3 linked regions of the Homo sapiens genome follow. The protein of the gene in region 2 interacts with the protein of the main gene of each other region in a pairwise test. Each region holds a gene or a part of one and is shown on either strand. Other genes may lie near its edges.

What was found.
Region 1: the proteins of TRIM2 (region 2) and CDK20 interact in binary tests that used the Homo sapiens proteins (3 or more experiments, as listed by UniProt).
Region 3: the proteins of TRIM2 (region 2) and TNIK interact in a two-hybrid assay, tested with the Homo sapiens proteins (2 studies listed by BioGRID and IntAct).

What each region holds. Positions count from the first base shown.
Region 1 is NC_000009.12:87,971,520-87,979,537, forward strand, and holds the start of CDK20 (cyclin-dependent kinase 20), read right to left. Parts: upstream 3,015-8,018; 5' UTR 2,928-3,014; coding exon 2,853-2,927; intron 2,721-2,852; exon of another isoform or gene 2,651-2,720; intron 2,556-2,650; coding exon of another isoform or gene 2,517-2,555; coding exon 2,403-2,516; intron 1-2,402. UniProt on the Homo sapiens protein: Required for high-level Shh responses in the developing neural tube.
Region 2 is NC_000004.12:153,207,388-153,214,495, reverse strand, and holds part of TRIM2 (tripartite motif-containing protein 2), read right to left. Parts: intron 1-7,108. UniProt on the Homo sapiens protein: UBE2D1-dependent E3 ubiquitin-protein ligase that mediates the ubiquitination of NEFL and of phosphorylated BCL2L11. Plays a neuroprotective function. May play a role in neuronal rapid ischemic tolerance.
Region 3 is NC_000003.12:171,058,369-171,065,476, forward strand, and holds the end of TNIK (TRAF2 and NCK-interacting protein kinase), read right to left. Parts: intron 5,597-7,108; coding exon 5,513-5,596; 3' UTR 46-5,512; downstream 1-45. UniProt on the Homo sapiens protein: Serine/threonine kinase that acts as an essential activator of the Wnt signaling pathway. Recruited to promoters of Wnt target genes and required to activate their expression. May act by phosphorylating TCF4/TCF7L2.

The sequences.
Region 1 (8,018 bases), on a different chromosome or scaffold from region 2:
AGATAAGGTGTGCCCCCACTCTAATTCTCCATGAACACTAAAAGGTCTAAAAAAGGTCATTTAGTGGCACCATCTGGTCCGCCCACCCAGCCTACCCGCCTGAAAATCATCTGGATGGTCACACATGAGATGGACAGGTCTCCTCCTGTTTCCTCTAGAACCACCGAATCCCAGCACCAAGGAAAGGACACCAGGAATCCCACCTTTCCCAGTGCTGGGACAGCTACAGACACATCACAAACACTGAGGCCAGTACTGTCAGAGGAGCCAGGCTACACAGAGAGTGAGCTGAGAGACAGGACTCTTAATGAACTCACAGCACAAAGGACAAACAGTTTAACAAATAAATGAATAAAAGGGATATATTCAGATTCTGTAAGTACAGGAACCAAAATACAAGGGGGCTGGGCATGACGTCTCATGCCCGTAATCCCAGTACTTTGAGAGGCCAAGGTGGGCGGATGGCTTGAACCCAGGTGTTTGAGACCAGCCTGGGCAACATGGTGAAACCTTGTCTCTACAAAAAATACAAAAAACTAGCCAGGCATGGTGACACGTGCCTGTAGTCCTAGCTACTTGGGAAGCTGAGGTGGGAGGATCACCTGAGCCCAGGAGGTTGAGACTACAGGGAGACAAAATCGCACTTCTACACTCCAGCCTGGGTGACAGAGTGAGACCCTGTATCAAAAAAAGAAAAAAAATCAACAGAACTAGAAGAGGATAGTGTGATTCTGTGAGTGGAGAAAAGGATACTTCTTTATTTAGGTGGGGTGGGGCTAGATGAGGACCCAGTTTGTGGGGATCTGGGATAAAGCTCTGAGCAGGAAGAAAAGCAAGTGCAAGGCCCTAACGCCAGCACAGAAGGAGGCTAGAGGGATGTGAGTACATGAGATTGTTTAAGGGAAGGATGTGTCTGCCTTGTTCTGTGCTCCTGGACCCTAGATAGGTGCTGGTCACTGGAGAGATGCCTAAGAAGTTGTGTTGAATGAGAGAAAAGGGAGAGGCCAGCTGGAGGTGGGCACATGGTGATAGTGCTCTAAGTGTGAAGAGAAGCCACCAGGGCTTTTTACGCAGGGGAGCCGATGACTTAACTTACACTTTTGACAAAGCCCTCCGGACTGTGGCTATGGAGAGCAGTGGGGAGGCTGCCACTGTCATTCTGATGAGTGGTGATGATGACTTGGGCAAGGAGCAAATCTAGAGTATGTTTTAAAGTTAGAACCTTCAGAATTGCTGACCAACTGGATGTAGGGACCATATCACCAGCTTCCTTATGGATCTCTCCACCTATCCCACACATGGCTGTCTGGAAGCCCTTTTATCTTCCTCAAAAAATCAAAATGGCCTGATTGCTGTTTTCGGATTTTTCAGGTAGTACACAACCATTTAACAGATCAAAACACATGCACACATTCAGGTAAGACATAAAATCCAACAGAAAAAGAACAAAAGAAAAATCCTACAGTCAATCTTAGAGTGTATTCTACCAGACTTTACAACAGATATGGCACACACAAATACACATTCACATATATAATATTTCCAAACAAAACCCAGATGACACAAAATTTTATAACATGCTTTTGTCATCCAATATATCATGCATATCTCCAGATCACAGAGACCCAACCCTGTTAACTCTCCAGGGAGTCAAATACATTCCCTATTTCGACATGGGTGAGAGAGAGCACCAAAAGAGTAATGACACTAGGGGTGAAAGATGCCCCTCTTCGTGTTCCAGCAGCCCCTCCCGGTACCCTATCACAGCACGAACCACACTAGGTGGGCCCTGTTGCCTCTGTCTCTTGTTAGCACACTTAAGTCCTCAGGAGCTGGGCTGGAGCTGGTTTCTCTGTGTCACCAGTGCCCAACACAGGGTAGAGCCTATGGGAGGTCCCAAGGGAAGAATGGACTCTCAATCAAACCTGGGCCAAACCCTCTACTGACTAACGGAGGGCCCAAGAGCTGGTGACATAACCTCCTCCTCTCACCTGAGAAACAGAGATCTGGAAACCTGCCTTGTACAGTAGTAAAGAGGTCTCAAAATGACAATGTATATAATGCCTGCAGAACACATCGGGAGCTCAATAGGTGCTAGTTACATTATAAATCACTACATGTTTTGAGAAAAAAAGTCGGTGAATGAATGAATACATTAAGAAATAAGTAGGCAAATGAGAGTGAATGTGTGAGAAATGAAAGAAATAGGTAAATAAAGGTGAACAAGTGGACAAAAAAGGGCAAAAGGGGGTAAGGAGGCAGATGAATGAGCAGTGTGTGTGAGTGACAGCGGGAGGAAATCCCTGAAAGCTGGTGAAGGCGTAGCTGGGAAAATGAAGGCACAAAGAAGTGGGAACGAGCGACTGAGGGTGAGAATACCATGCCCCCCCTCCCCTACTCACATACTGATTGTCCTCCATCTCCTGCAGAGCCTTAATCTCCCGCAGGGCCTGGTTAGGGAAGCCGTCCTCCAACCGCCTTAGGGCCACCTTCTTGAGGGCAACTATCTCGCCAGTCTGCAGGATAGAAGGCAGACACTGCCAGCCCACCCTCGGCTGGGAAAGAGAGATGAAGGTGGGTGAGGGGAAGGTGGTTGAGAGAGAGACACGCGCCCCCGGCTCGGCCAGAGGCCCTCCTCGGGGGTCTAGGACTAGCCTGGGACCCAGCCGCTGGGGTAGGGGACCAAGCCAGCTGTGCGGAGGGAAGCGCAACGGCCCAAAGTAGGTTTAGAATATGAGTAGGTTTTAAAAACTGTACTGGATGTAAAAAGGGAACCGAAACAGTTTAGAGCGTTAGCCGGAGGGTGGCGGGGGCACACCCCCGCCAGGCTGCCGGCCGCGGTCCAGCCTCACCTCCACGTGCTTGGCCTTGAAGACGATGCCGTGGGCGCCCTCCCCGATGCGGCCCAGGATGCAGTACTGGTCCATCCCGCTGCAGTCGTGGGCCTGTGCCCCTGTGCCCCTGAACTTCCAAACTCCACTTCTCCTCCACCCCACGCTGATCTGAGCTCGCACGCTGTTGCCTAGCAACAGCGCGGCAGCTGACCACTGGGGCGGTTCCTGTAGGCGACGTCACCAGGAGAACGGAAGCTGCGTCGAGTCAGGGGTGACAGCTCCGGGCCCCACTGCGCCTTTTCCTAGCCCTCCGCTGTCACGCAGCAGCAAGCTTAATCCCGCATAAAAAACGCATGCGCCGAGAGCGTGCCCGCAGCAGGGCCCACGGAACGATGACAGCAGGCACCTCCTATCTGCCCCCGCCCCCGGCGTCACGTGACTAGCTGCGCTGGTGCACGCAGCCGGGAGGGGCGGGCTCCTTCCCCTGGCAAGCCGGAAGCTCCGCACCTGTAAGTAGAGGTTCAGGCTTCGACCACGCGCAGGTGCTGTTTTCTAGCTCCGAAAGCCAGGCACTATTGATGCAGACAGACAGGTCCCGGGCTGCGTTGTGGAAAGAGGGTCTGTGGGTCCTCTTGTCTTAAAATGTCAGTTGGCTACGTGTACCCACAGATTTTTAAAAGGGCATACTCTGAGGGCCGGGCACGGTGGCTCACGCCTGTAATCCCAGCGCTTTGGGAGGCTGAGGCGGGCGGATCATCAGGTCAGGAGTTCGAGACCAGCCTGACCAACATGGTGAAACCCCGTCTCTATTGAAAATACAAAAAAAATTAGCCGGGCGTGGTGGCGTGCTCCTGTAATCCCAGCTACTCAGGAGGCTGAGGCAGAAGAATCGCTTGAACCCGGGAGGCAGAGGTTACAGTGAGCCGAGATTGCGCCACCGTACTCCAGCCTGGGTGACAGAGCGAGACTCTGTCTCAAAAACTAAAACTAAAAATAAAATAAAAGGGCATACTCTGACCCAGACAGGACAGAGTAGGCCTTAAACTTCTGAAAGGATGCTCAACTTCACATACAATAAACAAATGCAAACTAAAGTTACAGTTTTTCACATATTGGATGGCTAAAGATCTCAGGTCTAATAGTTCATTGACCAAGCTACGGGAAAACAAGCACTTTCATACATTGCTGGTGGCAGTATAATTTGACGATGTTGATCAAATCACAAATGCACAGACCCTCAGACTCAGCAAAGCCACTTCTAGCAATTTCCCCAATAGACACCTTTTACACATGTGAAATGACATGTACAAAGTTATTCCATTGCAACGTTGTTTCAACGGCAAACTATTGGAAACAACACAGATGTCCATCATTGTGGTGCCTCCTTCAAATGAGGTATTAAATCTTTTTATGTACAGCAATGGGAAGATTTCTAAAATAGGTTGTTAAATGAAAAAGGCAAGATGCAGGACAGAATGCATAGAGTACCACTGGCTGTGTAAACAAAAGGAGAAAAGAATATAAATAATGCTTGTACATCCATTACAAGATATCTGGAAAGATACACAAGATTTCCTGAGTGTGGTTACCTGGTGGAAGAGGGACTGGGAGGACAGGGGGACAGAATAGGAGGCAGACTTTTCACTGGGTCTCTTTACATTATTTGAGTTTTGAATATAATTTATTAATTTTCCAAAAAAGCAAATATTTTCTAGCTTAGAAATTTCACTTCTGGGTTAATAATTGCAGAAGAATGACTTGATGTCCATACAAAGTATTCCTCCTGTTTGATGATAGCAGAGATCTGAAAACAACCCAAATACCCAGATGGAAAAATGGCTAAGTTAAGTTAAGGGAGTGCCATAGAATGGAATAGTTTTTAGCATTAAAACTGGCGAAGATAGGCTGGGCATGGTGGCTCAGGCCTGTAATCCCAGCACTTTGGGAGGCCGAGTCCTACGGATCACTTGAGATCAGGAGTTTGAGACCAGCCTGGCCAACATGGCGAAACTCCCTGCCTGTACGAAAAATACAAAAATTAGCCGGGCATGGTGGCACTCGGCCTGTAGTCCCAGCTACTCAGGAGGCCGACGCGGGAGAATCGTTTGAATGGAGGAGGCGGAGGTTGCAGTGAGCCGAGATTGTGCCAAGGCACTCCACCCTGGGCGACAGAGCAAAACTTGGTCTCAAAAAAAACAAACAAAAAAAAAAAGATACAGTAGGGAAAGGATGGTCTTCACAAATAGTGCTGGGTCATTTGAGAAGTCATAAGGGGAAAATAATGTATATTGACCCCAGTCTCACACCATTCACAAAATTGATTCCAGATGGACTGCAATCTAAATATAAAAGGTAAATAATGAAGCTTTTAGAAGAAAATTATATCTTAATGGCTTTGGATTAATTCAAGATCCTTAGGTTACAGAATACACTAAAAGAAAAACAAAAATGAGAAATTGGCCTTCATCAATGCTAAGAATATCTATTCATCAAAAGATACCATTAGAGACCAGGCACAGTGGCTCACACCTGTAATCCCAACGCTTTAGGAGGCCAACATGGGAGAATCAGTTGAGGTCAGGAGTTCGTGACCAGCCCGGCCAACATGGTGAAACCCTGTCTCTGCTAAAAATACAAAAATTAGCCAGGCATGGTGGCATGCACCTGTCATCCCAGCTACTCAGGAGGCTGAGGCAGGAGAGTTGTTTGAATCCAGGAGGTGGAGGTTGCCGTGAACCAAGATCACGCCACTGCACTCAAGCCTGGGTGACAGAGTGAGACTCCATCTCAAATTAAAAAAAAAAAAAAAAAGATACCATTAGAGAGTGAACAAGAAAGCCACAGAAAGGCAAAAGAGAACTGTAATACATATATCTGACAAAGGACTCACATGTAGAATTTATAGAGAACTTTTATTATAACACTGAAGAAGAAGCAGACAATCTTACAAAAAAAAAATTAGAAAAACCTGGAATAGACACTTCGCAAAAGGTGATTCCTGAACAGCCAATAAATTTTGCAATATGTGTGTTTAACTTCCCTGACTAGAAGGGAATTTCATATTAAAACCACAACAGAGTGTTATTGTAATCACTAGAATAGTTTAAATGAAAAAGATAGATAATACCAAATGCTAGCAAAGAGCAACTTGAACTCTCATACACTGCTGCTAAGAGTGCAAGTTCATACAACCCCTTGGAAAAACTGGCACTTTTTTCCACAGGCACGTACCACCACGCCTGTAGAGGCAGGGTCTCTCTATGTTGCCCAGGCTGATCCTGGGCTTGAGGGATCCTCCCACTTTGGCCTCCCAGAGTACTGGACTTACAGGCCTGAGCCACCACACACGGCTCCACTTTGTCAAGTTTTACTAGCTAGTTTGAGGTTCAAGAAAAGTTTCAAAGCAAATGCCTTTTTATTGGACTAGTGACTTTTTTCTTTTTTTTCTTTTTTTTTTTTTTTTTGCCAAATCAATAACTGCATAATGACTTTTACATGACTAAATTTTACTTATCTTCCCACACATAAGACTGTCGTACAATTATCAAATGCTTTATGAAGCACCATTTTGTGCATAACATCACAGCACAAAGACTAGTATGATTATGGTAATGGGAGTTATTTCACTATTCTCTTCAAGAAATGGTAAAAGGAGACGATAATCTCAATTGATGCAGAAAAAGCATTTGACAAAATTCAACACTCTTTAATGAAGAAAGCACTCAACAAACTATAAATACAAGAAAACCACCTCAACATAATACAGGCCATGCAGGAAAAGCCCACAGTTAACATTACATTCAATGGTGAAAGATTGAAAGCTTTCCCTCTAAGATCAAGAACAAGTCAAGGATCCTCACTTTTGCCGCTTTTATTTTATATAATACTGGAAGTCCTAGCCAAAGCAATTAGAAAAATAAATAAATAAATACATAAATAGGCCGGGCACAGCGGCTCATGCCTGTAATCCCAGCACTTTGGGAGGCTGAGGCAGGTGGATTACCTGAGGTCAGGAGTTCAAGACCAGCCTGGCCAACATGGCGAAACCCCATTTCTACTGAAAATACAAAAATTAGCCGGGCATGGTGGCACGCACCTGTAGTCCCAGCTACTTGGGAGGCTGAGGCAAGAGAATCGCTTGAACCCGGGAGGCGGAGGTTGCAGTGAGCCGAGATCGCACCACTGCACTCCAGCCTGGGTGACAGAGTGAGACTCCGTCTAATAAATAAATAAATGAATGTAGGTAAATAAATAAATAGCATCCAAATTGGAAAGAAAAAACTATCTCTGTCTAGAGACAACATGATAATATATGTAGAAAATCCTAAATATGCCACAAAAAACTGTTAAAACTAATAAACAAGATAAACAGAGTAGCAAGATTCAAAATCAATATGCAAAAATCAATAGTTTCTATATACTAACAATGAGCACTCTGAAACAGAAATTAAGAAAATAATTCCATTTACAATAATATCAAAAAGAATAAAATACTTAGGAGTAAATAAGGAAGCAAAAGACTCATAGGTTGAAAACTAAAAAATGTTGCTGAAAGAAAGACACAAATAAATAGACATCTTGTGTTCATGGACTGAAGGACTTAATATTTTGAATATGTCAATACTACTGAAAACAATTTAAAGGTTTAATGGAATCTCCATGGGATTTCTTTTTTGCAGAATTAGAAAAAAAAATTATTCAGAAACCAATGTGGATTCTCAAGAGGCCCTAAATAGCCAAAACCAATCTTAAAAAAGGAGGAGGTCTTACTCGTCCAGATTTTAAAGCTTACCACAAGCTATAGTAATCAAAAAAGTGTGGTACTGACATAAAGGCAGACAGCCCAATGGAATAGAATGGAGAGCCTAGAAGTAAATCTTCACATACCTGATCAAATGATTTTTAAAAAAATTATGAAGACCATTCAATGGGGAAAGGACAGTCTCTTTAACTAATGATGGTGAGAAAGCTAGAGCTCTACATGCAAGAAAATGAAAAAATTGACCCCTTATATCATATGGAAAAACTAACTCAAAATGGATTAAAGACCCAAATTTACACCAGGTGCACTGGCTTACACCTGTAATCTCAGCACTTTGGGAGGCTGAGGCAGGATCACTTGAGGCCAAGGCCCGCGGATCACTTGAGGTCAGGAGTTCGAGACCAGCCTGGCCAACATGGTGA
Region 2 (7,108 bases):
TGTTCCAAGATTCTGAGTTACAAAAAGCAATTTTACAGATACCTGATACTGTCTTCAGCATATTAGATAGTTCCTCTTAAATAAAACTTGCATTTTAAAATGGACAGAAAAGAGTTTGACCCTCTTAATCTCTTAAATCCAAGCTCTCCTCAACACTATGCAGGTTATTGGAGGCTATGCTGGTCAGGTTTTACTGCCCAGGGACTTAGAGGGGCATCTCCATTTATCAGTGGCTTATCTAACTTTTAGAGTCCTTGATCAATTACACAGTGCTCATGGAAATGCAAATGAGCATGATCAATCAGTGTTATTGAAAAGCACTTTTGTAAGATGTATCAAAAACCTTTTAAATGTTTATATCTTATGCTCTAGTAATTTCACTTTAAAAATCTTTCTTCTTGAGGTACAATCAGAGGTGTGGTCACAGATATTGTCTAGACACTATCATAAGAGTACCAGCTCTGGGTTTCAATGCCAGCCCATCCACTTTTTTTTTTTCTTTTTTCCTCACTATGTCTTATGGTGCTAAGCTGCCACTTTCTAATTGTGCAATCTGGAACAAAATATGTAGCCAACTGTCCTGTGCCTCGTTTCCCTCTTCTGTTAAATGGTAATAATAGTAGGTTTGTTACAAAGATTAAATTCGTTAAATAGTAATAATAGTAGGATTTGCCAGGCACAGTGGTTCACACCTGTAATCCCAGCACTTTGGGAGGCCGAGGCGGGTGGATCACCTGAGGTCAGGAGTTCAAGACCAGCTGGCTAACATGGTGAAACCCGTCTCTACTAAAAATACAAAAGTCAGCCAGCCATGGTGGCATGCACCTGTAATCCCAGCTACTTGGAAGGCTGAGGCAGGAGAATTGCTTGAACTCGGGAGGCAGAGGTTGCAGTGAGCCAAAATCGTGCCACTGCACTCCAGCCTGGGCGACAGAGCGAGACTCTGTCTCAAAAAATAAATAAATAAGTAAAAAATAATAGTGGGATTGCTACAAAGATTAAATTAATTAAGATGCATAAAGAACTTGAAACAGAGCCCATCACTTTGTTAGCGATTCGACAAATGTTAACTATCATTATAAGCTATTATTGCAAAAACATTCATTGCTGTATTATTTGTGATAGAAAAAAATTGAAACAAGTTAAATGAACAGAAATAGAAGCATGAAGACATATTTTTGCACATTCATGCAAAAGAATATAATGTACCCTGGAGGCATCACATAATGGTTAAAAACACAGGCTCTGGAAACTGAATGCTGGCCTGCCCCTGACCAGCTGTGCGGCTTGGGACAATTTTCTCAACAATCTGAGCCTCAGTTTCCTCACCTGAAAATGGAGAAGAACAGTAATAGTGGGCTGACTGGCTCATACACATAAAGCACTTAGAACAGTTCCTGGCACACAGTCATTGCTTCATCAGTTAGTCTCTCCACTTACAGTCAAGTTGGTAGCCTGGCAGACTGGTGATATCTCATGCACACAAAGCTTCCCAGGCAGTAGCTGTGAAAGTACATGCCCTGGTAGGAGATGAACTGAACAAAGCCTAAATTTCCCTTTGTATGAATAGACAAAATGACTGATGCAAGCCCAGGCCTGGAGGCTACGTGCACAACCACCATGCAAAGGAACTGGAAAGAGTTGTTTCACTGCAGTACCAGAACAGACTGCTTTGATTAAGAGAAAAAAGAAAAGGGAATAAAGAAGACAGGCCCCCAAACAAAACCACCCACCAAAGCCACAAACAAGACTTGGCAAGAGAAAGGAGCTGAAAAGGCTTTCCTAAATCTCCAGTCTGCATCCACCTCTTTTCTTTTTCTTTCTTTTTCTTTTTTTCCTAGAGACAGAGTCTCACTTCGTTGCCCAGGCTGGACTGCAGTGGTGCAATCACAGCTCACTGCCTCGAACTCTCAGGCTCAAGCAATTCTCTCTCCTCAGCCTCCTGAATAGCTGGGACCACAGGCATACACCACCACGAGTGCAGCTTTCTTACATGGAAATATTGCGTAATGGTGAAGTCTGGGCTTTTAGTGTACTCATCATCTGAGTAATGTACATTATATCCAATAGGCAATATTTCATCCTTTATCCCCTTCCATCTTCCCACCTTTTGGAGCCTCCAATGCCTATTATTCCACTCTCTATGTCCACATATACCCACTGTGTACCTCCCACTTATAACTGAGAACATGCAGTTTTTGGCTTTCTGTTTCTGACTCATTTCACTTAGGATAATGGCCTCCAGGTTCATCCATGCTGCTGCCAAAGGCATGATTTCATTCTTTTTATGGCTGAGTAGTATTCCATGGTGTATATGTACCACACTTTAATCATCATCTGTTGACAGACACTTAGCTTGATGACTTTGCTAAAGGACAGCTTTATTTCTCATAAGGGTTGAAGCCTGCAGAGAGGCCATTCTGACAGGCTGGGAAATGTAGCCTACCGCCAGAAGCTAGAAGCAAGCACTTCCTCCTCACTGAGTTTTTGAAAGACTAAGGGAAAGAGAATAGAGAAGGGATATTTCCATCTACCGGGGAAAAGATGTGCAGTAACAAACCATCTTGGGAGACAGCCTTCTCACAGATTTAGAAAAGTATATTTAAATTTTGATGAAACTTTTCAAGTATTAAAGTTTGAGTTACAAGCACAAGAGAGGATAAAACAAATCCAAGCAGAGATTCAAATTGTCATATAAGAATTTGTAGGCTGGGTGAGGTGGTTCATGCCTGTAATCCCGCACTTTGGGAGGCCCAGGTGGGCAGAGTATTTGGGCCCAGGAGTTCAGAGACTAGCCCAGGCAACATGGTAAAATCCCATATCTACAAAAAAATAAAAAATAATTAGCCAGGCATGGTGGTGCATGCCTGTAGTCCCAGGTACTTGGGAGGCTAAGGTGGGAGAATCACCTGTCTGGGAGGTGAAGGCTGCAGTGAGCCATGATTGCACCACTGCACTCCAACCTGGGCAACAGTGTGCAACCCTGTCTCAAAAAAAAAAAAAAAAAGAAAAAGAAAAAACAAAAAAGCAAGCAGGCAAGCAAAAACAAACAAACAAATGAACTAAGATCTGCTCCCATGTTACCCCACCTTGCTCCTAAAGGTTGGATGTAGTTTCTTTTATCAAGGAGCAGGTTTACAACCAGCCTTGGAAGCCTGGAAGGTATTGAGATGTTTCTCTGACCCAGTAACCCCAATTCCTAGAAAGGACAGGGATCAGCAGTCACTACACTCTTCTTCCACCCAGCCCTGTCCAGAGCTGACCTCAGGTTACCTCACTGTCAGCAGCACCCCCTTCCTCAAGGACCCTGCCCCCAAAACCACACCTGGAAGCTTGAGACACCACCAGGTCGGTGTGCAGATGGCCGCTATGGATTCCTAGTGAGCATGGCTTGTGAGAAAAAAAGGCAGCCTCATATTGGAAGCCTGTGTTTCCTGAATGCCCCTGGACAGTGATGAGGAGGGGTGGGTAGGCTGCCATTGCCCCATCCCCTGTCTCCTCCCAGCCCTCCAGTGACAGCTCAGACAATGGTGCCCTGCATGTCTGGGTTTACTGCATGTGTTGAGTGTGGGAAGAGGGCTGCTTTTTTCAGATCTTGTCACTATCCTTCCTTGTCACAGTTCCAACACGGCTTCTGGGGCTTCTAGGGTCACTGCTGCCTTATGGGGTCTTTTCATTTTCTTTTTGTAATGGCCAGCATTAATATTTATGCTGTGCCTCCAGTATGTCCAGAACACACAGAGTGTCCAGGAAACACAAGAGCTAGCCTCACTGAAGTGTATTTAAAGGGGCCACATTTCTAAGAAATCACTGATTGCTGCTGTTTCGTTAAAAATGCTCTCAAGAAAATAGAATCATCCAGTGAAGAGCACAAATCAAGAATCAAATATTTTGAGAGCTCTAGTTCCTTCCTTTTGGTCCCCAGTGGAATAACCTGCATGTCAGTGAGCTATTAAAAGGATTTGGCTCCATTTGGCATTCCTGGAAATGCAATTATTGCCCAGTTGCCTGTGAAACATTTGGGGACCCATGAAAAAGATGGCCTTGCAGATTTCACAGGACTTTTGCTGCGAAAGAGACTCCTCAGCAACATTTTGCTTGATGTCCCTACATTTAAAATTAAGTCACCCAGCCCAGGCACGGTGGATCACACCCGAAATCCCATTACTTTGGGAGGTCAAGGCAGGCAGATCACCTGAGGTCAGGAGTTTGAGACCGGCCTGGCCAATGTGGCAAAACCCTGTCTCTCCTAAAAATACAAAAATTAGCCATGCGTGGTAGCAGGTGTCTGTAATCCCAGCTACTTGGGAGGCTGAGGCAGAAGAATCGCTTGAACCTGGGAGGTGAAAGTTGCAGTGAGCCGAGATCTCGCCACTGCTCTCCAGCCTGGGCAACAGAGTGAGACTCCATCTCAAAAAAAAAAAAAAAAAAAAAAAATTAAATCACCCAATGTGGCAACTAGGAATATCTTGGAAAACTATATGGATTTGAAAGTATCTTGAAAAGCACAAATGCTGTTTATGGTGCATGATTCTGAGATCAGGTTACAGCTTTAAAGTTCAGTTGAAACTCTATTTTATTCTCCTGCAAAGAGTGAGAGAAGTCATATGGAGGAAAAAACCCATCCTTGGAAGGTCTCTGGTGGGATATACTTAACTACTTACCATATCAAAGAACACACATTGAAAAGTGCCAGACCAGGTTTAGAGTGAGGCTTTGAGGGTACTACAGATTTAAATGTCTTCCTCCCACACACTAAGGAATAGATCTCATTTTTCAAGTTGGTAACGTTCGTGAAGTCAGACACTGACCCTTTGTCTCCCACGGTTTCTAGAGTCAACAGTTTGAGGAATTTCATTGAAGTTCTATTTGCATAACAGTTGCAAAATGTGAAGTGTACCATTCCCTCGGTTCCAACTTGTTAAGTACGGTACTTGAAGGCACAGGTGGACAGTGGGCAAATACACCTGGTAGTTAAAGACCTATATATCAGGAAATGCTCCCTTAAAAAGCTGAGCAGGACTGGAGGTGTGATAAGGGATCTTGTACCCAGCATGTGCCTTGAGGTGAGACTATGCATATCTAAACAACTCCCAGGGCCCCTCTAGGGAGTGCAATTCCAGTTGAGTTTTCTGATTCATCTTCCATCTTTTATGGGGGTGGGTCCCTTGAACATATCGGAGTGATAAAACAGCATGCTAATAAGTGTGGGAGGTGGTGTGAGTGTCCCTTGTTTGAAAATTTAAGTAGATTTAAAAATTCTCAAATGCAAGGGATTATGAATGTAAACCACATTGGTGTTCCATTACTCTAGTTAGGGAGGCATTGGGTGCACCAAGGTCACCAGGCTCCCTGCTCCTTACGTGCCTTCAGGGGCCTGTCCACCATTTTTCCTGATTCCGCTGTGTTAGATCTTTGGCTGCTGGACCTCAGTTTTCCCAGGGTTTTTCATAAAATGGGCCTGGTGAAGAAATGACTCCAGTCTTGTCAAATCTTAGGAAGAAGGAATTGATGCTGGATCTTCTGAACGAACACATTTCTTTGTGTGTGTGGATATGGTTCTCAGTACCCACCCACTGCTCCAGATGTGCTCCCAGCTCCAGACCTTGCCTTGCAGGCTCACACTTTTGTAATGTATGGAAATTGTAAATGTTCTCTGCTTGGAATCCTCTGGAGCATCATCTAGAAACCTCCATCGGGATGGATGCAGTGTTCCATCTGGGAGGGAAAAGGAACGACCCCATGCCAAGCACTATGGAGGGCAGTCTACATGTTCTAGCTTTCCATTCTCATCATAGCCCGATAAGGCAGACAATATCGTTCCCATTTTCAGGTGAGGAAAACAAGAACTGGAGAGGGTAAGTGACTTGCCCAAGGTCACTAGCAGTCAACCAGCAGACCTGAGACTCGAGTTCAGCTCTGTTTGACCTATGTTCTGGTCTTGACACATCTACGGGATATTATATTTTCCATACAATTTACTATGAAAATTTTAGATAGTGACAAATTTTACATAAATGAGTTTTAGATTTATTTATTGTTTATTAAATAATAAAATTATTTATTATAATTTTAGATAAAGATAAATTTATCTAAAATTGTGTAATTTCTTTGTGTAAGAAATTACACAAATTTCTTCTTGTGTAAAGTAACCAACTTGAATGTATCATTACCTCCTGTGAAAATAAAAAGTGTACTTTCCTTTTGAGACAAGGTCTTGCCCAGGCTGGAGTGGACTGGCACAATCATAGCTCACTGCAGCTTCCACCTCCCAGGCTCAAGTGATCCTACCGCCTCAGCCTCCTGAGTAGCTGAGACCACAGGTGTGTACCACCATGCCCAGCTAATTTTTATTTTTATTTTTTAGAGACAAAGTCTAACTATGTTGCCCAGGCTGGTCTTGAACTTTTGGCCTCAAGCGATCCTTCCACCTTGGCCTCCCAAAGTGCTGGCATTACAGGGTTCACCACTGCACCTGGCCAGAAGTGAACTTTTCAAACCACACACAAGACCCATCTATTATTCCTGGATGAGCCTTCAACATGGATAAGCATGATCAGCAAGGAGCTCAAGGGTGATTTCAAACCATGTTTAACTTACGGCTCATGAGTTCCTCCGGGGAGATTTCTGTCAGATCTAAAGTCATAGACAGAAGCTAGAATGGACTTTGAAGATCATGCCTCAGGACAGATAGAAAACCGTGACCCTGAGGGACTCCCTTTTCCAGAGCCACCTGCTGGCCAGTCCCGGATGGAGACCAGAACGCTGATGTCCAGCCCGCCCTTCTTTCCACTGCACTGCATTCTCTTAGCATTTCCTTTATCCAATGTCACCAGTAAATCAGAGAGACATTTGGTAAACTTAGATGGTATTTAGGACTGTCGTTAGATGCTGGTAGCAGTCATAATAAAATAATTAATATTCACTGAATATTTGCTGTGCACTGAGTGCTGTATAAGGAACTTTGATGCATGACCACATTTAAACCTCACAATCATCCAGTGAAACAGATTGTCATCCCATTATTTGGCTGAAGGAATACAGACTTAGGGAGATTTGGTAACTTGCCCAATAACATATAAGTAAAACAACGAAAGTGAGGCTGGAC
Region 3 (7,108 bases), on a different chromosome or scaffold from region 2:
AAGGAGAATAGTTTGGAAGTGGCAATGAGGAACAAGGAGGCATCCTACGATTAATGTTTTATTATTCATATTTTGACAAAGATAGCATATTATATTCCAGGACATGGTAGTTACCATGTGGGGAAACCTATCAAAGCATTTTTAATGACTGCTTAGAATAACTGTAGAAAGTACTTTCTCAATGATTTTTGTATGCAAGAAAAAAAATACCTGAAAGTAACCAAAAGTTTCAGACTGGAAAATATGCCAGGAAGATTTTCTTCTCTCATTCTCAGGTGAGGTTATAATCCAGTTTTAGCAAATGTTTGACAATTTAAAATACTTTTGAAAACTGGAGATTTAAAAAATGTAAACAATTGTAGGCACAGCAAAATCGTAGTTTTCCCTTCTGATATTATACATTTGGCATCTCTCTACAGTTATATTAACATAAATAAGGCAGCTAAAACGTTCAAAAATAGTTTTACAACATTCAATTTTAAAATTTCATTCAAGCTGTAATCTTTTGTTTCCTGCTGCCACCTAACATTTGAAGTTTTGATTCAGGGTAATGTCCAAGGTTTCTTAAACATACCATAATAAGTATTACTATTCCTTAACATTTATCCCAGGGGAAGAGATAAGGGAAAGGGGTAGCTGGGCATGATATTTACAGTGTACAAATAATGATCCATTGCCAGAAATGAAAACTCACCTTTCCACCAGCATTTGCTCAGCCTCAATAGTGCAATGCAACTTGGTGCTGATAAAAATAAACCATTAAAACCAAACCCTATCATGCAAGGAGTGAGTTTGAAGATATGTACACAAACTCAAAAATCTGTAAACTTTAGGACATTTTTATTTTTAACTGTATTTTCTACTTTTCATCCAAACATTTGTCATCATGGACTCAGAAGAATCCAAGATTTTGATCTAGATTTAAAATAACTCAAACATTACCCAGGGATTTTTGTTTAAAAATGCTTTTATGGGGATTTTTATTTTGGTATATTCTGGCACTTCCTGGAATGGCAGGTCTAGAAGAATAAAGTCCAAAGCACAGGGTTATGATCTCACACTGTTTAATGCTAAGCAAACTGTTGAATATTCTAGTTATCAATGGAAGAATTCCCAGAATAATGGTGTAGAAATAAAAACAACCTAGAAAATGTTTGGTAGGAATATACAAATTGTCAGTTTTGAACTTGCAAATTCTCAAGAGGTTTTCTTCTTTGCTGGGACTCCTGAAAAGTGATCAATTTTACACCCAATTTATTTAAGATCCATGAAAGGACAGCTTACTTTAGGGTTCCTGATATATAGTGACCAAGGAGATATAGTGGCATTTATGAGAAATATTAGCAGGTAAATTAAATCAAATTTAGACTTTTGGATTTTAGATTTATGTTACAACTATGTAGTCTCAGGGGAGGTCAGTTTTTGGTTGGTTGGTTATGTTTTGCTTGATTTGGTTAGATTTAAATTTTGAAGAATGAACTAAAAGGTAACTAACAAGTTAGAGACTGTTGAAATGATCAGAACATGGTACCAGTGGTGATTCTGGAATATAAAGAGCATAGTAGCATCATTCAGAATTGTTATCAGCATGCTGTGGATTTTCTCATGTTTTCCTGCAGTAGGTTAAAATTAAAAGTTTTATCAATAACTATTTTTTTTCTTAAAAATAATGTAGCACATCTTACATCTTAAAGCAATCAGCACAAATGCAAGTGATGCCTGTTCAAGCAGACTTTCAAAGACAGCACACACTGTTAACACAAAGAGCTCTTCCACGTTTCAAGAATACAGTGACGGGAACTGGTACACATAGTAGTAGGGAAAGCATTTTTTTAAAAGCTTCGTGGAATGTGAGACTTTAGCCCCTTCCTTTCCTGGCAGTGGATAAAACCAAAATGGTTCTGGCTGGAATTTCACATCTTTCTAATAATCTACTGGACAGGAGGGACCAGAGACACCAATTACCAATGAGTCACAAGAACAGACAAAAATTGTTAGTAGGTTTTGACAACCAGGAACTAAGGTGTTTTTAAAAAACATGTACTTGATGCAAAGTATATTAGGAGTGCACCCTAGAAAACAATGTCAAAGTGTTAGAAAAATGGAGCCCCTGTCCAGGTGACCTTGTGAGATTTCACCCATAACTTAATATACCCTGTTTAATAAAAATAATAGTTCTAGGTCTTCTTGAAGGATTGTTTAGAAGTCTCCAAGAAAAATAATGAGATCTATCTAAAATAGAGCTGTTCAATTTTATGTGGAACTTAGTGAAGGCTGTCTTCATTTGCATTGTGTGTTATGACAGTGGTCTGGCTGGAACTGGCAGGGGGAAGAGCCTCATTATTTGAAGGAACTTCACTGGTCATCCATTCCTACCACCACTGGATGCAGGAATCCATGCTACAGTATCTTTGACTGGCACCCAGGAATGATGGTCACCTGCCAGACCCCAGACCCAGACTATGGTGTGGGCAGGCTCAGTAGATTTTACTGGATGATTATTAATTTAGAGCAGTAAGAACTGGCAGATCTAGTGAAACTTACTCTGAGGGGAGGGCTCAGTTTCTCCAGTTTCTCTTTGTAGGAAAATAAAAATAAAATGAGCCAATTTCTAGAGACAAAATCACCTATAAAAAGATCAGAACTGAAGATTTTTTTTGTTGAGATGCTATAAAAATGGATGAAAAGCAACCGTTCCTCCCCTACCCCCAAAAAGAATTAAGGCAATTCAGAAAGTTTGGATGAGCCACAAGGACACCATTCTGACGTATTCTGCATGTTCTAGGCCTCCTTATGTCAGGGCTGGGGTCTGTCTTGCTGGAGGAAAATTTATTTTTGAAGATAAAAGCTTCAGTGAATTCTTTAAATATCTGTCTTTTAAAGAGCACAGATTTCTGGGGGGCCCATTTAAATTTGGATTTGCCTTGTACTCAGTGTAAAATATTAGTACAAAAATATAAAAGGCATGGCTTGATGTTTAACGTGTGTTTTATTGTTGTTGGCACCAGAAAAGCTCATGTTCTATGTTATGTCACTGTACATACTGTAAACAAGACTGCATTAATATTGTTTTCTTATGATTTGTTTCAATGACTCTAGATTTTAAAAAATACATTCACAAACTACCTTATGTTTAAACACAATGATTCCCTTTTATTTCTTAACTGTACCCAAAATCCCACAATAAAAAAATCATTTAAAGCTGTGTGTTTCAAACTTATCACTTAGAAATAAAAACAAAACAAAACATAAAAACAAAGATCAGTTTGCAACATAATTTAAAGAAGCTTCTGGTTTAAAATACCACAGCAGCAATATAAAGAGCTGGTGGCAATCACATTCGGGAGTGAAATCGAAATCAATATATTTTGTCCACATCAGCATCCAATTACAGTAGTTGTTAAATTCAATCCAAAAAGTTATTGCTGAATTTGTGGCATGGAATTTGAGAAGATAGTATTGTTCAGCAGCACAACCACAGCAGTAAAAATGAGAACAGGAGGATTTCATTGCTTTTGAGAGCTAAAGGGACCATGAGGAGGATATCTTGCTGATTGCCTGAAGATAATCCTCAGTTACATTCCTGCATATTACCTGCTTTAAATAAATGCAAATGACAACCACCTTTTCAGGAGGGGCATAATAATGTAATCCAGAAACTAGAATGTTTCCCCTTCTCTTCCCCATCTTGCCCAAACCACTAGATTGAAATGGCTCCATTTTCCTAATGTGTATTTCGTTCTCATTAATAGTACATCAGCTGCTTGTGTATTTAGGCAAAGTCAGTAAGATCGTAGTTTTTTTTGTTGTTGTTGTTCCATTTACAGTAATTATTTTCTCCAGAAACAAGCCACATTAGTTTTTGTCATTGGATTCCCCCCACTTCCAATTTTTTAAGAAGAAAAATTTGGTCAACTACTGTTTCGTTTTAAAAATGTTAAATGCACCTGAGATTGCCGGTTGAGCTCTCTATATGTCTCCTGGAGATAACACTGCTGTGATGAACAGTGAAACAAAAACAAACAAAACGAGGTAGGTTAAAACAGGAAGCGCAACACAGATATTGTTTGCAACACCTCGATACCACAGGCGGCCATGCTTGTAGCTTTGGAAAAAAAAAATCCCAGTCGCATAAAAGTTCAAATCATTTGAGTAAGAGTTTATAAGGACACAAGTCAACCTGAACTAAATACATACATACTTCTGCACAAATGTTGTTTACCGTATGTTGGGTAATTTGGAGGAAGGTAAAGTGATTAGGGTCTCAAAATTTTGTCCAAAGCCTTGCTTTCAAGTTCTCTAAAATTGGAGCCAATGATGCCTCTTGTATCTGAGGCAGGCTTAGGAGTCTAGTCCCTTCTCTCACCCACACAGGGAGAACACAGGCAGCTCAGAAACATTTATTATTAATTTTTTCAGTCACAGTTTTCATCTTGAGAAAGTGGCACCCTCGGGAGAGCGCTGGGAATGTTCAGAGCCTGAATATCATCCACTCTCCAAGTCCCAGAAAGAACTCAACAAAGTCTCAGTCCTAATGAAGCCCAAACCAAGTGACCTCTTAGCTGGGAGGCTTTGTGCATTTTAAAAAAGACTATGTAAGCTTGTTTCCCAGAAGCTCTTTCTGTCTGACCCCATCTGTCATCCCATCTTTTTCCCTGATCTGTTGCATAATAGCTGAGGGAAAGTTGTGTTAGAGTGTCCCTCCATCGCTAGGCCAGCTCAACTCAATGGCGTTAGTATCCTGTTCAACACACTCCATTCTGTAAAGGGCCATATAAAAATGTGGCCTGTCAGATTCACAAAAGTGGTAGTTGATTTTATTAGACTAGTAGTTTTAAGGCTAGTAGTTTAGCCATTTAAAATCTATTTCCCAAAAGAGGGGAAAACTAGTATTTTTCTTCTCTTTTTAAAAATTCATTAGCCAGTTGCTATCAAAAAGCAACCTTTTGGGTTGGTGAAGGCAAGAGAGTTCTTAAATTACTCCACTATGTAGTTATGGCCTTCAGCCTAAGGAGATAAGGTACATTTATTGTGCTGTCTCTCATCATTGGAAATTTTACAACATACCATATACTTAAAACTAGTAGGCAGACAGAATTTAAAAGACTCATTTTCGCAGTATGCATTCTTTCCCCATTCTTGCAGAGTAAAGGGGTAAAGAAAAAAGGTAAAAACCTGAAAACCCACCATAACACAGCTTAATCGTTAAGAGCACACAATATTTGTTTCTATCCCTAATTCCGAAGGGCACATGGTCCATCTTTGTCCACAGACAAGGCAGCATTCTTGGGGATCTCCTGGAAATTCCTGCCACCTTTTTCTCTCCTTCTCAACCAGGCTGCAACATTGAAAGATGGACTGTACTGGGAGGGGCGGAGGGAGAGGAAAAAGGGAAAGCGATATGTTCAACCAAGCCTTCTGATTCTGCCTCTAGACTGGCATAAGTCCACATGAGTTATGTTCTTTTAAATTAGAAATAACGCCATGAAGATAAGTGCCAAGTGCTCTTCTGTTACCAGTTCATCATGGAATTTCTGTTGAGGGTCATGAAAAACACTTGGCTACTTCCTCCAGATCGCACGGATGCAAAAAATACCTGTTTGAAATTAAAAAGAAGTTAGTTCAACTGCATGGTCTTTTCCCCTCTTTTCTTCAACCGTCCATCCATTTTCTCTCACATGTCCTATCCTTGCCATGTGTCAGGTCTTAAGACTCAATGGCTTGTGTTTATAAAGTCCCTTTGGATATCGTGCATCCTATGTAAAAACTCCTGCCTTTATTCCTAGGTTGTTATTATTCCTTATTGTGGTATTGGTCTCCAGAGATGCTGAAGGGGCTATATCTTCATTTGTAACATCTCTTTGGGTGTTCACTTTTTAAAAGGGAGTTTCATGCTAGGATAACGTGCTGGATTTCTGGTCTAGGACCCAACAGGTTCTTTGTTAATTTCTAGAAAGGCACAGAAGCTTCCCTTCTCTCACCCTTAAATGACAAGAAAGTAGACTTCAGGATGGAAGGGAATCCCTTCAAATTCTCAAAGTCAAGGGGGAGTTTTAGGCCTACTGACTATCATACAGTTTCAGATTTCAGTTTTTTAAATTTAAGATAAAAACATTAAATAGTGTGGTCAGATAGGGCAAGGTATTTAATGCCTACTCATTTTGGCATTTCAAGAGTTAACGCATGGTTTCTCTGCTGATGGTGGCATATCCCAGGGCAAATGAGATCATAGCATTAATGAGGAGAACCACAGTCCATTAGGTCTGAGTCTGTTAAGTCATTTTATCAAACAACTGACAAACGTGAGAAAAATTTGGGTTACTGCTTGCTTGAGCTGAATGTTTAATGTTAAAGAACCACTGCCCCAGGAAAGTAATATTTTGGGCTATGGCCTAGCCCTTCAGTCAGTCAATACCTAACTTTTGTTAGGTAGTTGCTTTTGTCACTAGTCTAAAGTCTCTGCTACTTCATTTCTACAGCTTCTTCAGAAGAATGCTAACAACAACTTCTTAGGGAGGTCTCTGGAAATGCTTGACATTCACCTAATGCTGCATATGAAAGTAATGCTACTCTTAGGGTCAATGAATCAAAACGGAGAAGGACAGAGAGGGCCTATGGAAAACCACAATGAAGAAAAGAAAGGGCTGCTCTTCCCTCCAAGTTGTGTGCCCCTGGCTGTAAACCTTGGGTTGCAGACAACTGGTGTGGCCCCAGCCTACTCCTAAGGGTGTGGCATGGCTTGGAACAGCCCTGCTGGGGTAGGTTTTCAATCGGAATGTGGGTATCCATACCCAGATCACTCCTGGTTTTTTGATTCTTAGAGACTGGGTGGGAGCTGGAGTTTTACTAGGTTATGTTTGTTTTCTGGGAAATCTAAATGGCTGGAACCATCTTTGCCACCTGCAGCTACTGTCCACCCAGACCACATCAGGTCAGAGTAGTGGGCCAGGGTTGAATATAGTTTAGGCCCACATCACCAGGTTTGGACTAAGACCAACCTGACCTTTGGGGAACTGGGGTGGACAAAGGGATATACAAAAATTCAACCCATCATACTGTTTTTCTATAGGCGTTTATGTCTGTGGCTTTGGGGACAGCATTTCTATGT